2 linked regions of the Homo sapiens genome follow. The protein of the gene in region 2 interacts with the protein of the main gene of each other region in a biochemical or structural test. Each region holds a gene or a part of one and is shown on either strand. Other genes may lie near its edges. The genes, in order: TOLLIP and CSTF1.

Region 1 (3,809 bases), on a different chromosome or scaffold from region 2:
TTTCCTTCCCTCTTCCTATCACCCCCTCCCCTCTTCCTTTAATTATACAAAACACAACAGGCGCTTCAAAGCCAACATGCCGGGAGGTTCCCTGGCTCTGCTAAAGTCTCAAAGCAAACACTAGAATTTGTGTAAGGGAAGCTGGGAGATGACAGTATTGAAACGAACCCGTGTAAGCTGAAGAGCGGTGAAAGGGAAGAGTACAGGACAGAATGAGAATAAGCATAGATTATAAAAGCTGACTACAGAACAAGCGACTTTAAATGGGGTCTCTGCCAGGAACTCCACTGCAGGCAGCCTTGCATCCTAAGTGCTGGGACGGTCAAGCAAGGCAGAGGCGGAAAACCCCTTCTCATTCAGATGAAACAAAAGCCAGTCAAGCAGCAGGCCAAGGGCGGACAGAGATCCAGAGAGGGACGGCATGTGACGTGGCAGGCCCTGGGCGCCGGGCACAGGGCGCGCGCTGCGGCAGCCTCTGCGTGTCACTGTGTGCCTGAGGCTTCCATGGTGAGGTGCTGGGGCACCCCTGCTCCTGGGATGCTTACACGTGAGTGGAAGAAGACAAACGGGAAGCATCATGAGTTATGCTGTATGCTAACGGCAGGAGGCGCTGTGCAAAGAAACAGGGCAAGGCCGGGTGGCAGGGGCACGCTGCACTTCCCACAGGGCAGCAAGGCAGGCCTCACCAGCACGGTGCCAGGGCAGGGCCCGCAGGATCTGGAGACAGTGACTCAGGGACAGGAAACACTTGCACAGCAGGCCTAACCAGGGGCCTGTCGGGCAGGTCAAGGGACAGTGTTAGAGGCCCAGATGAACAGAGGTTAGGGCCGGGTGCAGTGGCTCACGCCTGTAATCCCAAAACTTTGGGAGGCTGAGGTGGGCGGATCACTTGAGACCAGGAGTTCGAGAACAGCCTGGCCAACATGGTGAAACCCCATCTCTACTAAAAATACAAAAATTAGCTGGGCGTGGTGGTGGACGCCTGTAATCCCAGCTACTCGGGAGTCTGAGGCAGGAAAATCGCTTGAACCTGGGAGGAAGAGGTTGCAGTGAGTTGAGATTGTGCCACTGCACTCCAGCCTGGGCTACAGAGCGAGCCTCCATGTAAAAAAAAAAAAAAAAAAAAAGACCTCAAGTGAACTGGGAGGCAGGCCAGAAGCAGCGTATTCAGAAGGCAGCAAACAGAGGGCCAAAAACGAAGGAAAGCCGGAGGAAGGGACATCCACTCCCGGGCTGCTCAGCAGCCACTCCAGGAGCCAGGAGAGGGCGGGGTCCCACCTTCGAGGCACTGAGGACAAGTGACCGTCCACCGGGAGTACTGTCCACCTGGAGTACCGCCCACCTGGAGTTCCACACACACAAAAATAGCTGTCAGGACACAGAGAAAAGGCATGTACAAGCAAAAATCAAGTTTGCCAGCAAGGAAAATTCTAGATGAACCTGAAGCTAAAGGAAAGTGACCCCAAATGGAAGGCCCGAGACACCAGAAGGGATAAGAAAAGAGAAACACAGAAGGAAATCTAAACAAGCGCTGACTCGAGAGAAGTAACACATTCCTGCGGGAGCCCCAAGGGGAGGTAGCACCCACACAAGGCACAGCAGCACCCGCGCCAGGACGGGGCGGCCGAGGTCTCCGCGTGGATCCGGAGGTGGCACAGACAATGATTAACTTCTTCTTTATTTATTCTTTAGCCGGGCAGCCTCCGGAGCCAGAGTTCACTCAGAGACTCCCTCATGGCAGAAGCTGATAAGTGCATGTTACCATTTCCAGGGGAGCCCCTGTACTTTCCCAGCACAGTGTGTATGTACTTGAGATAAAACAACTGAATTTTTTAAAACTCCATTTAATAAATTCAAAAGGCAATGAGAGAAAAAAAATAAGAAAATGTAGGACAAATAAAAGCACCAAAGAAAACATGTAAAAAATCTGTAAATCTGTGTATCCATCTAGGCATCTCTTAACTAGAAAGATGAAACTAGCGCATTCCCATCAAAAGACTTAGTCTTCTTAGATTTGACTTTTTAAAAATCCAGCTACGTGCTATCGATGGTGCACGTGTCTTAAACAAAAGTTTTCAGAAAAATGTAAAATCATAGAAGGAAAAAGTACTAGGTGAATACTCTCTAAAAGACAGCTGGGGTGGCCATGCCAGTATCAGACAAAATAATCAAAGGCAAGAGGCCTTTATCTTCCAAGAGGCCCGTGGGTCCCCACACAGTGAAAAGATGTGATTTCCAGGCAAGCACAGCAATTCCACACCTGTACAGACTCACAACCCGGCCTAAAAAATCCAGCGCAAAGGTTCACAGGAACCCAGAGAGAAAGGACTCGTGAGGAGGCGGTGAGTGCGTTCCCCGCTGGCTCAGGTGCAGTCAGCAGGAACGGACGCCCTCCCAGGAGCAGCCCACCAGAGCCAGCGGAGACGGGTAAGTGCCACTGGCTCAGACACACAGGATGCAGGAAAATCCACGGGCTCTTCACAACACTCAGGGGAGAGAAAGCCCACACACATCTACAAAGAAAAGCAACTCTCTCCTTGAGGTACGGGAAGATGAGGGAAAAGCATCTCACTTGCCTTTCTTTCACGAATTGTGTTTCAGGACAGCCAGCCGACACCGGTTGATGGGGAAAGCTAATCTTTACAAACAATCCCAGTTAATAAACACCGAAGAAGTGATAAAGTTCAGAAACTACCCTCTGCCATCCCTAATGAAGTCACCGATTCGGCAGGAATTATCAACGATGTGAAGAGTGAGGGGACCTGGACAGGAACAGGCCTCTCAGGGAGGAAGGGAGGGGCCAGGCCGCCTCCAGCTGGACTCCATGGCCAACCAGCACCTCCAGAAGCAGGACAAGGAGTCAGAGCAGCCTGGACACGGCACAGCGCACCCACCTCTACCAAGGAGGCCTCTCTGACGGCACCGCGGTGGCTGCAGCGGAGTCTCCCGCAAACGTCCCGAGATCTCACTGCAGAAGGCAGGGGTCCACACGGTACTCCTCGATACTCCTCGCGGGGGCCCGCACGGTACCCCTCGCAGGGGCCCCCATGATACTCCTCACAGGGGTCCACACAGTACCCCTCGCAGGGGCCCCCACGGTACCCCTCGCAGGGGTCCACATGGTACTCCTTGCAGGTACTCACCCATGCTTTCTGATAATATGCAGACTATATTGAAAAAAGGTTATCTTTCCAAAATACTGGCCTTTTTGAAACGTGAGGGAAGCACTGCACAGGGCTGAAGCATCCCTTAGTGGCTATTCAGGGAACCATTATCCTGAAGATCTAAACACGGTATGATTCTCTCAGAACGATGTCGGGCTGGCTAGCTTCACACGTCCTCTCCACACCTACCCACCCGGGCCCCTGAAGCTCCCTCTACCCAAGGACAAAAGAACCCTCCCAGGACCCCATTAGCGGCCCCTCTGCTCCTTCACGGCCCATGGGATCTTGCCGTCTCCCCTTATCACTAGGGGGAGGCAACGGCTAGACCACAGTCAGGGTCTCCCGAGCCAGAGTCCTGCCCCCGGACCCTGGGGAGCATCTCTTTCTGCTGGAAAGCTGAGCGAGCGCCCTGCTTAACCTCCTGCCTCTCTGGCACCACAGGTGTAACAGAAAGAGGACATGATAAATACTGTGTCAAGACATCCTGCAAAAGCAGGGCTCCTCTAGGTGCTAGTAACTGGGTAAAGGCCCACTATGGGTTAATTCAGAGGGGCTGGGGTGGGTCATGCTCAGCGAAGCAGGCTGGTGCCAAGGCGGGCCCTGCCTTGCGTGTGCCAGGCAACACTTTACAGAGTGCTGCGCTGA
Region 2 (4,527 bases):
TTTATAGTCATAAAAAGGCTTCCTTTTGGAAAGTAGATATTCATATACTTTGTCTCAGTAATTCTGTCTCTAGGAATTTACTCCTAAGGAAATAAAGCTTTCTGTACAAAGGATGTTCATTACAACATTACTTATAATTGATATAAACTAAATGTCAGGAAGTAAAAGAATTGTTAAACAGGCCGGGCATGGTGGCTCACACCTGTAATCCCAGCACTTTGGGAGGCCGAAGCAGGTGGATCACAAGGTCAGGAGATAAAGACCATCCTGGCCAACCTGGTGAAACCCTGTCTTTACTAAAAATACAAAAATTGGCTGGGTGTGGTGGTGTCCACCTGTAGTCCCAGCTACTTGGGAGGCTGAGGCGGGAGAATCACTCGAACCCAGGAGGCGGAGGTTGCAGTGAGCCGAGATCACGCCACTGCACTCCAGCCTGGCGACAGAGTGAGACTCTGTCTAAAAAAAAAAAAAAAAGATCACACACAAAAGAATTGTTAAATAAGTAATGGGGCTTCTAAACATGAGGCACTTTGCATCTAGTAAAAAACATGGAAAAATGTACTCAGCATAAAGTTGGTTAAAACTATAATAGAAAAATATAGTGGCAACAATTTTATATGTATTTTTAAAATGTGTTTTTTTATGCCTCAAAGTACATTAGGACAGTAACAGTATTGCTTCAGGTGATCTGGTGATCTCCTTTTTTTTTTTCCTGATGCAGTCTTGCTCTTGCTCTGTTGCCTGTTGCCCAGACTGGTCTTGAACTCCTGGGCTCAAGCAGCCCTCCTTCCTCAGCCTCCCAAAGTACTGGGATTACAGACGTGAGCCACTGTGCCTGGTTTGATTTTCTTTTTTGTACTTTTTTAGAGTTTCTGAAAGTGTACAAGGTGTATCACTGCAACAGGTTTAAAATGCTTTTACATTGAATGCTAGAACGTTCTGAGGGTCTAAGATGTGGACTTAGAAAGCTATCCCTCTTGCTCTCTGTGGCAGGCGCGGGTTTAAGTGGACGCCAGGTGCACCGGACACAGGCTGTGTTTAACCACACCGAGGACTATGTGTTGCTGCCCGACGAGAGGACGATCAGTCTTTGCTGCTGGGACTCGAGGACAGCCGAGCGGAGAAACCTGCTGTCGTTGGGGCACAACAATATTGTACGCTGCATAGTGCACTCCCCCACCAACCCCGGGTTCATGACGTGCAGCGATGACTTCAGAGCGCGGTTTTGGTACCGGAGATCGACCACTGACTGAGCCACCCTCTCCGTAGGGTTCTTTCTCGAGGACTCTACCCTCCTCCCCCACGTCCTGTCTCAGCTGCAGTCGTAAGTCCGTGCACCATCCTTGACGTTTTGCTGCCACCTCTGTCCACATTCTTCTTGGATTTGTATAAAAGAATCTTTTTTTACCTTGATGTAGAATCATGGTGGAAAAAGTTGGAAACACAGATCTGTGCAGTTCTACATTCACTGATTATTACAGTGTGATTTTCATCGGTTTTGTAAGTACAGGACTTGCCGTTTCTTTTGATCTCTTGATTGAAGGAGGATAGGGCATTAAAGTGCTTTTGACATGAGGAATTTTCATTTGGTTCTTCTGTCAACTTTCTTGCTTATTCTGCTGAACCCTCTGTGTATTTCCCTTCCAGGTATATTTGAACAGATAAGCAGGCATGCAGCTCTGAGACTCCTGAGTTTTATGCCATTATCAAAAGCATTTTCAAGAATCCCTCAATTCTATCCTGAAATGATGTTATTCTGATAATAAAGCTCAGATCTGCAACTTTATTGTTATATATTTTTCACTTCTGTAAAATTAATGGCCAGTTTTTCCTGACAATTTATAGGAACAGTATCTTTCAACATACTCCCTACATTATCCTTCAATATCTGCAATACTTGTCTTTAGTAACTGTATTTCTGGTAAGATTATGATTTCATGAGAAACAATTGAAAATATATCCGATCTAATTAAATTAGGTCAGCCTGCTATTGCTCTCAGGTGTTGCCTGTCTTCACGAATGATTAGTATCGATTGACCTCTTTCTTAGGTGGTTTTAAGTCTTCAGTTCTCGTCAGCATGAACTAACTTCTCATCATGGAGGCACATAGTAACTGCATTCTCAGAAGATTTATGCAGTTAACCAATTGATACAAGTTTTCTTTTTCTTGAATTTTTTTTTTTTTAATTGAGGCACAGTCTTGCTCTGTCACCCAGGTTGGAGTGCAGTGGCGTGATCTCAGCTCACTGCAAGCTCCGCCTCCTGGTTTCACACCATTTTCCTGCCTCAGCCTCCCAAGTAGCTGGGACTACAGGCACCCACCACCACGCCCGGCTAATTTTTTTTTTTTTTTTTTTTTTTTTTGTATTTTTAGTAGAGCCAGGGTTTCACCATGTTAGCCAGGATGGTCTCTATCTCCTGACCTCGTGATCCGCCTGCCTCAGCCTCCCAAAGTTTTGGGATTACAGGCGTGAGCCACCGCGCCCAGCCTTCCTGAAGCTTTTTAGAACATGACAGTACTTCTCTGGATTCAGCACTAGCAGAGTCAGAGAACTCTGAACTCCCCTTGTACAAACATAAACTTTGCTTTATATTTATCCCAAAAAACAAATACCTTATGATCTGCATAGGAGTACCTAGAAATATAATCTGGGATCATTTGATAAAAATAGTAAATAGATTGAAGTAAAAGTCATTGCTTTATATTATAGGAAGTTTTGTTTTGTTTTGTTTTGTTTGTTTTGTTTTTGAGACGGAGTTTCGCTCTTGTCCCCCAGGCTTTAGTGCAATGGCGCGATCTCGGCTCACCGCAGCCTCCGCCACCTGGGTTCAAACGATTCTCCTGCCTCAGGCTCCCGAGTAACTAGGATTACAGGCGTGCGCCACCATGCCCGGCTAATTTTGTATTTTTTTTAGTAGAGACGGGGTTTCTCCATGTTGGTCAGGCTGGTCTCGAACTCCCAACCTCAGGTAATCCGCCCGCCTCAGCCTCCCAAAGTGCTAGGATTACAGGCGTGAGCCACCACGCGCGGCCCCATCATACGAAGTTACTGAAGTTATTGCGTAAACATTCTGTTTTAGTCATCCTTGAGGATCGTTTTAACTCCTTGATCTGTAAAACTGTCTTAAGCATCTTAACATGTTACATCACAGGGTTTTAGCTCAGATTTCCAAAGAGCCATATTTTTTGATGCATATTTCCAGTTGAATTCCAGTGTGAATTTCCAGTTGTACTTTGCATTCTGATTCTTTGATATTTGAACTTGGCCATCTGTGGGTGCTACTCTCGTAAGACTAAAAGGCACCTACTAAATACGAACAAGGATAACCAGTTCTACCAAAAACATTACCAACCAAACCTCCCCTGTTCTTTTTTCAGACTTTCCTTTTGCTTTCAACCTCTTAAACTGTAAAGGAGAGATTTAATGTTTCCCTATTATTCTGCTTTGACTCACATACTAAAATGACCACATGGCACTCCATTGAATCTTTTCAGTTGTTCACGAATTAAAATAATGCCCATGTTTTACAGTTTTTCGAGTAGTCTCAGCAATGGATCTGTAGTTTCAGGACCTGTTTTTAAAAGATCAAGATACTTTTATGTGTTTCAGAAGTAGCTGTTTTTTCATTTTTTGTGGGTTTGTTTTTTTTGTGTTTGTTTGGTTGGTTGGTTTTTGGTTTTTTTGCTTTTTAAAGGTCACAGTGTTGTGAGCCTGGTGTAAATGCCAGGAATATTATATGGACTTAGTATCTGCATCTCGTTAATTGTACCACACAACACTCTGCCATTCAAATAATGAATATCTGGTCAGGATACGAACTTATACCCTCTGTGTGTTTTTTTTTTTTAAGATACGTGATTTCTGAAATAAACTTTATATACAATGATAAGCTAGTTTATTTTTTTTGGAACTTACTTTGAACATTTCCCACATTTGAACATCTGTTCTCAAACAGCAGTTATGACTTTGGTACTGTTCACCCTTTCTTTAGTGCTTTGTTCCAGAAGTCAGGTTTTTATAGCTGGATCACCTTTAGCTCTTTATCTTTGCTCCTCTGCTCTCTATGAATTTTTCTTTTTTTGAAACGAATTCTCACCCTGCCGCCCAGGCTGGAGTGCAATGGCGCGATCTCGGTTCACCGCAACCTCCGCCTCCCAGGTTCAAGCGATTCTCCTGCCTTAGCCCCCTGAGTAGCTGAGATTACAGGCGCGTGCCACCATGCCTGGCTAATTTTTTCTATCTTTAGGAGAGACAGGGTTTCGCCATGTTGGCCAGGCTGGTCTTGAACTCCTGACCTTCTGATCTGCCCACCTTGGCCTCCCAAAGTGCTGGGATTACAGACGTGAGCCACCGTGCCCGGCCGCTCTCTGTGAAGTTAAAGAACTTGAGTATAATTCAGTTTTTTGGCTTATTCAGAGAACGCTATCTTTGCTTACACTTTGGTTTTCCTTAGGAAGAGCAATGTGAGAGAGTCCAGTCTCAGCTCTGTTACTGACTTGGTAAGTAATAGGGCAAGTCATTTTTC

Evidence for each region.
Region 1: the proteins of CSTF1 (region 2) and TOLLIP form a complex in vitro, tested with the Homo sapiens proteins (one study listed by BioGRID).

What each region holds. Positions count from the first base shown.
Region 1 is NC_000011.10:1,302,929-1,306,737, forward strand, and holds part of TOLLIP (toll-interacting protein), read right to left. Parts: intron 1-3,809. UniProt on the Homo sapiens protein: Component of the signaling pathway of IL-1 and Toll-like receptors. Inhibits cell activation by microbial products. Recruits IRAK1 to the IL-1 receptor complex. Inhibits IRAK1 phosphorylation and kinase activity.
Region 2 is NC_000020.11:56,402,475-56,407,001, forward strand, and holds the end of CSTF1 (cleavage stimulation factor subunit 1), read left to right. Parts: intron 1-993; coding exon 994-1,253; 3' UTR 1,254-3,888; downstream 3,889-4,527. UniProt on the Homo sapiens protein: One of the multiple factors required for polyadenylation and 3'-end cleavage of mammalian pre-mRNAs. May be responsible for the interaction of CSTF with other factors to form a stable complex on the pre-mRNA.